2 linked regions of the Homo sapiens genome follow. The protein of the gene in region 1 purifies or fractionates together with the protein of each later gene. This does not show direct contact. Each region holds a gene or a part of one and is shown on either strand. Other genes may lie near its edges. The genes, in order: MYL4 and TTC4.

Region 1 (2,946 bases):
TGAGGACTTCGTGGAGGGCCTGCGTGTCTTTGACAAGGAGAGCAATGGCACGGTCATGGGTGCTGAGCTTCGGCACGTCCTTGCCACCCTGGGTATGCCAGCTGGGCAGAGATGAAGACCAAGTGGGAGGAATGGAGGGGTGGGAGGTGCCAAGGTGACATATGCTGGTTGGGTGGGGGGTGGTATACAAGGGTCTTTGCATCCTGAGGATAATGACCTGATCCAGGCCCTGTCTCCCTGGGCTCTGCAAGAACAACCATTCCCAGTTGGGTTTGCTCAGCAGGTACCAGGGTTTGGGAGAGGAGGGGAGAGCAGGTTGGCAGAGCAGGGCTTACTACTGAGGCCTGAGAGGTGGGACTCAGGGCTTCTGTCCTTGTCTTTGCCTGAAACACTGAGGCTCTGGAAGCTGTAAGGCAGAGGGGGAGGCTTCGGAGACTAGGCAAGACCTTTAGACCCTTGGCCGCACCCTTCAGAACCTCTGGGAGAGGCTTGGTTTGAACCACCTCCCAGATCCAGGCAGTCTTGGACCTTCACACTTAAGGGGGTACTTGGGTATTGCCAGTTCCTCCTTTGCCATCTGTAATTAAGAGCGCACCACCTCCCAAACCCACCGCAGGAGAGAAGATGACTGAGGCTGAAGTGGAGCAGCTGTTAGCTGGGCAAGAGGATGCCAATGGCTGCATCAATTATGAAGGTATTAAGCCGCGCCTTGCATCCCAGGGCAGCCAGGGATGGTAGGATGGGAACAGCTTGGGTGGGGTGGGCCCAGGAGCTGGAGGGTATGTGTCTGAGGTGGGTTTTTGTAGACCCCCCATTGGATGTTGTTCTGTTCCATCTTGTGAGTGAACCTCCTAGTGTAATGGCGGGAGCATGGATTTTGGAGATAGCTCTGTGATATATTAGCTGGTGGGCTTGATTAAGTCACTGATTTTCTCTGAGCCTCAGTTTTCTCATCTGAGGGATGGGGGTGATGCTGGCACCTTTCTCAAGGCTGTGGGGATTCATAGAGATAATGTAGTTCATTCCATTTGTGTTGAGAATCAGCATAGAGAGTGGGCACAGAGCAGAGTCTAGGTATCTGCCCTCCACCCACCTTCTCCCCACCAACCCCCAAATAAGAGCAGGAACTACACAGTCTGGAGAAAGGGGAGCAGGAGGGTTAGAAGTCAGGCAGTGTAGAGAAGGGACAAGTGGTTTATGGGCCTAGAGGCGCTGAGCCACATGGTGGCTGATTTTCACTTTTTTCCTAGCCTTTGTCAAGCACATCATGTCAGGGTGAAGCAGAGTCTTCCAGGTGAGTGCAGCCTCTCCCTCCTGGTCCCTTCCGGGGTCACATAGGGCCTTAAGAATAACACCATGTGCCCTAGAAGGCATCTGTCCCAGCCCTGACCCCTTAAGAGGAAACCTCTTGGGATCAGGAAGTGAGGACAGCCCTGCTCACTCACCATCTCCTGTCTCCTGCCTGCCCTTGCCTGTTCACCCTGTCTTGACCCTATCAGTCACATCCTCTTGCCTCTCCCAGGATCTCTCAAGGCAATGCCCTTCCCTCAGGCCTGGGGCCTCCTGTACAGGCTCCTGGGAGTGAGAAAGCCGATCCCAAGTGGAAGAGAAGGTCCCTGGCCTGTGCTCTTGACCCCGTTCTTCCTCACTTCTTTCCCTAGGTTTTCCCTGGGATCCCCCTGGGTGTGGTAAGGGGCTGGGTCTAGGAGGGTGAAATGCCCTTTCCTCCTAGCACTTTCTTTCAGGTGCCTGGCCCTTGGCTTTAGCCATACCAGGGTGAGTTAAAGAGAGGCCCCGGCTGGGTGAGCTGAGATGGAGTCCTCGACTTATCACCACACCACTGCCCCAAGGACCTTACAGGCCCTCCCTGTTAATAAACAGCTCTAACACGGCCAGGCTGGGCTCTGGGATTCTGACCAGTCTCTGTTTTGTTTGTTTTTTTAAAACTAATTAACGAATTGCATTGGTTTGCGTTGTGTGTGTGTGTGTGAGAGAGAGAGAGATAAAGTCACCTGAGGCCTCATGTGTGCTCAGAGAAATGAGTAGTATCTGGGAGCTAGGAGACAAGGACAAAAGCCTGTGGATCTAGAGATATTGGGGTCAGACCCAGGAGAGCAAGCTCTGGAAGGCCAGCAGCTTGAGGAGTTGTCACCTGGAGGAGTTTTATTCCCTTTGGGCTCACCCTCTACCTAATCACACCTCCAGATGGCAGGCAGAGAGGGGCCAGGCTGAGGCAGGGACTCCTCCTTTGGTCCTTGCTCTTGCTGCTTTTAAACAAAAATTGTTGTAAAATACACATAACATGAAATTTACCATCTTAACCATTTTTAAGCATACAAGTCAGTAGAGTGAGGTATATTCACATTGTTGTGTAACTGTATTAGTCTCTTTTCATGCTACTGATAAAGACATACCTGAAACTGGGAAGAAAAAGAGGTTTAATGGATTTACAGTTCCACATGGCTGGGGAGGCCTCACAATCATGGCGGAAGGCAAGGAGGAGCAAAGGCACATCTTACATGGATGGCGGCAGGCAAAGAGAGCTTGTGCAGGGAAATTCCCCTTTTAAAAACCATCAGATCTTGTGAGACTTATTCACTATCATGAGAACAGCATGGGAAAGTTACCTCCTACTGGGTCCCTCCCACAACACATGGGAATTCAAGATGAGATTTGAGTGGGGACACAGCCAAACCATATCAGTAATGAATCTCCAGAACCTTTTCATTTCCACCAGCAGAAACACTGTACTCAATAAATAACTCCCCATTCCCTCCTTCCCCCAGCCCCTGGCAATCAGCATTCTACTTTCCATTTCTATGAATTTGACCACCCTGGATAAGTGAAATCAGACAGTGTTTGTCTTTTGTGACCGGCTTATTTCACTTAGCACAATGTCCTCGTGTTCCTTTTTTAAGGCGGAATCATGTCCCATTGTATAGGTCA
Region 2 (3,500 bases), on another chromosome or scaffold:
CGCATTTGAGCAGGCAGTAATGAGAATCATCACACTTAAGATGTATCAGTTGAGATTATCCAGTCTGAAGAACAGAATGAGAAAAGAATAAGGATGAAGAGAGACTTGTATGATGCCATCAAGCATACCAACAAAGGCATAGTGGGGGTCCTAGAAGGAGAGAAGAGAGAGAATGGGCAAAAGAATACTTGGGGAAATATTGGCCATAAACTTCCCAAATTTGGTGAAAAACACTGATGTATACATCCAAAAAGTTTAACAAACTATAAGTGGGATAAACTTAAAGTGATCTCTACCTAAACACATTATAATTAAACTGTTGAAAAACAAAGAAGAGAACCTTAAAAGCAGCAAGAGAAAAATGACTCTTTATGTACAAAAAATCCTAAGGAAAATTAACAGCTTTCTCATCAGAAGCCATGAAGGCCAAAAGGCAGGTAAATGACATATTCAAAGAGCTAAAAGAAAAAGACTGTAAGAATTCTATATCTAGCAAATCTATTCTTCAAAAATGAAAGAGTGGAAGAGAAGTAGTAGTAAAACCATCTATATGCAGACAACTTGACCGTGTATATAGAAAATCCTAAGGGATCCACTAAAAAACTCTTGGAACTAAGTTCAGCAAGCTTGTTGGAAACAACATCACCAGTACACAAAAATCATTTGTATTCTATAGATTTTTAATGAACACTCTGAAAATGAACTTAAGAAAACAATTCCATTTTAAATAGCATCAAAAAACACTTATGAGTACATTTAACAAAAGTAGCTAAAACTTATACTCTAAAAATACAAAAAACATTGTTGAAAGAAATTAAAGAAGACCTAAGTAAATAGGAAGACATCCCATGTTCATAGATTAGATCTTAATATTGTTAGATGGCAATACTCCCAAAATTAGTGTATCAATTCAGTGTAATTTTCTTTTTTGAGACATGAACTTGCTCTAATATTCAGGCTGGAGTGCAGTGGTATGATCATGGCTCGCTGCAACCTCAAACTCCTGGGCTCAAGCAGCCCTCCTGCCTCAGTCTCCCAAGCAACTGGGACTATAGGCATGTGATGCCACATCTGGCTAATTTCAGTGCAATCTGTATCAAAAGTCCAATTGGCTTCTCTGCAGAAATGGACAGGCTGATCATAATATTCACATAGAAATTCAAGGGACTCTGAATGACCAACAATCATGAAAGACAAAAAAAAAAAAAAAACAAAATTGGAAGACTCACACTTCCCAATTTCAAAACATACGACAGAGCTACAGTAATCAAGGCATTGTGGTACTGGCATAACAATAGACATATAGGTCAATGTAATAAAATTTAGAGCTCAGAAATAAGCCCTCACATTTATGGGGAATTTATTTTCAACAAGTGTGCCAAGACCATTCAATAGGGAGGTAATCTTTTCAACAAAGGATAGTGGGACAACTGGATATTCACATGTGGGAGAATGAAGCTAGAACTTTACCTCATACTATATAAAAAAGTTACCCAAAGTAGATCAAATACCCAAATGTAAGAGCTAAGACTATACAACTCTTAAAAGAAAACATAGATATGAATCTTCATGAACTTGGATATGACACAAAGCACAAGCAACAAAAGGAAAAGTAGATTGATTGCACTTCATCAAAAGTAAAAACTTTTTGCTTCAAAGGATACCATCAAAAAAATGAAAAGATAAATGTGAAGAAAAAAGTGAAAAGGGGCCAGATGCAGTGGCTCACACCTGTAATCCTAGCATTTTGGGAGGCCAGGGCAGGAGGACCACTTGAGGCCAGGAATTCGAGACCAACCTGGGCAACAAAGTGAGACCTCATCTCTACAAAAAAAAAAAAAAAAAAAAAAGTGAAAAAGCCCACAGAATGGAAGACAATATTGGTAAGTCATAAGGGACTTTTATCTACAACATATAAACAACTCTTATCATCTCAATAAGACAGGTAACTCAGTTTTTTAAATGAGGAAAGGATGTGAATAGACACTTCTCCAAAGACACACAAATGGCCAAAAAGCACATGAAAAGATGTTCAACATCATTAATAATTAGGAAATGCAAATCAAAACCATAGTAAGATACCATTGCATACCCACTAGGGTGGTTATACTTTTTAAAAAAAATCTATAGAGACAGGGTTTCTGTCACCCAGGCTATGTTTCGTAGCACTCGGATCACACGACCAGAGTAGTACATAATCCACCTGTTATACTGGCTCTTTACTTGTCTGTACCCCTCAACCCCTCAGTAGACTGTGAGTTCCTTGGGTACATACAGGAAGTAAATTTAAACTGCTGCTGCCACTGGGTCTGACATCTAGGCATGTACTTTGTAAATGTTTATTGAACTGAATCTGGCCACTGGTATTCCTTAACACAGGAGCTTGGGTTGGATAGAGGCCAGAGATAATAATTTAGGAGCAGGCTAGTGCAATAGAAGAGGAAGCCAGGTCTCTAGAGCTGATGCATCTAAATTTCATTTTTAGCGAATTGAACAGAGGGATGTGAGGAAAGCCAACTTGAAAGAAAAGAAGGAGAGGAATCAGAATGAGGCTTTACTCCAGGCCATCAAGGTGAGTTCTTAAACCTTAGGTTTTTATGGTCCTGCTAAATCCACTAATCCTGTGAAGCTTGTTGGGAACCTTTCTTGGGATGCTTTACCTGAAGGAATTTGTTCATTTTCTTTCTACTTTGGTAAAGCAGTGTGACAGAGGAGACCAGGCTCTGGAGTCAGGCCACCCCAGTTCAGTCAGCTCTCTCATGTGCATGTGTTGGTCTCAGTAACATATACAGTTGTCTCCACTTACCTGAAGCAGATGTATTCCAGGATCCACAGTGGATGCTTGAAATCTCAAATAGTTCCAAACCTGATTGCCATCAGTCAGAACACATTTCTGTTTGTGTCTTCCACCCACAAATATAATGCCTTTTCTATCTTAGCTAAAGCACTTATCACACACTGTGGCCATAATTTTTGCAGTTTGAGGTACATCAGCAACAGCAAAACTAGCATGAATTTCTTTTTCCTTCTTTGTAATTTCACAGATAGAAGGTTGCTCTTACCATAGATCTTAGCAACCTCAGCATACAATTTTTCTTCTAATTAAGTTGAGAAATTTCACCTTTTTACTTAAAGGAGGTAGTTTATAGCTTCTATTTGGCATATCCGAATTGCCAGCATCAGTACTCTTGTGCTTTGGGGTCCTTATTAAGTAAAATGAGTGTTACTTAATACAGGGACTGTGATACCATGACAGTCAATCTGATCATTGAGATGGGTGCTAACTCACAGGTGGGTATCATCTACAGCGTGGATGTGCTGGCCAAAGAGCAGAGCCCGTGATTTCATCATCTGCTACTCAGTGCATAATTTAAAACTTACAGGTTGTTTATTTCTGGAATTTTTCATTTAATATTTTCAGACCATGGTTGACCACTGGTAACTGAATCTGTGGAAAGCAAAACCGTGGATAAGGGGACACTACTGTACTGAATACCTGC

The links.
Region 2: the proteins of MYL4 (region 1) and TTC4 purify together in Homo sapiens (co-immunoprecipitation; one large-scale study listed by IntAct). This does not show direct contact.

Annotation. Positions count from the first base shown.
Region 1 is NC_000017.11:47,221,764-47,224,709, forward strand, and holds the end of MYL4 (myosin light chain 4), read left to right. Parts: coding exon 1-92; intron 93-616; coding exon 617-694; intron 695-1,250; coding exon 1,251-1,279; 3' UTR 1,280-1,294; intron 1,295-1,745; 3' UTR 1,746-1,916; downstream 1,917-2,946. UniProt on the Homo sapiens protein: Regulatory light chain of myosin. Does not bind calcium.
Region 2 is NC_000001.11:54,725,861-54,729,360, forward strand, and holds part of TTC4 (tetratricopeptide repeat protein 4), read left to right. Parts: intron 1-2,485; coding exon 2,486-2,572; intron 2,573-3,500.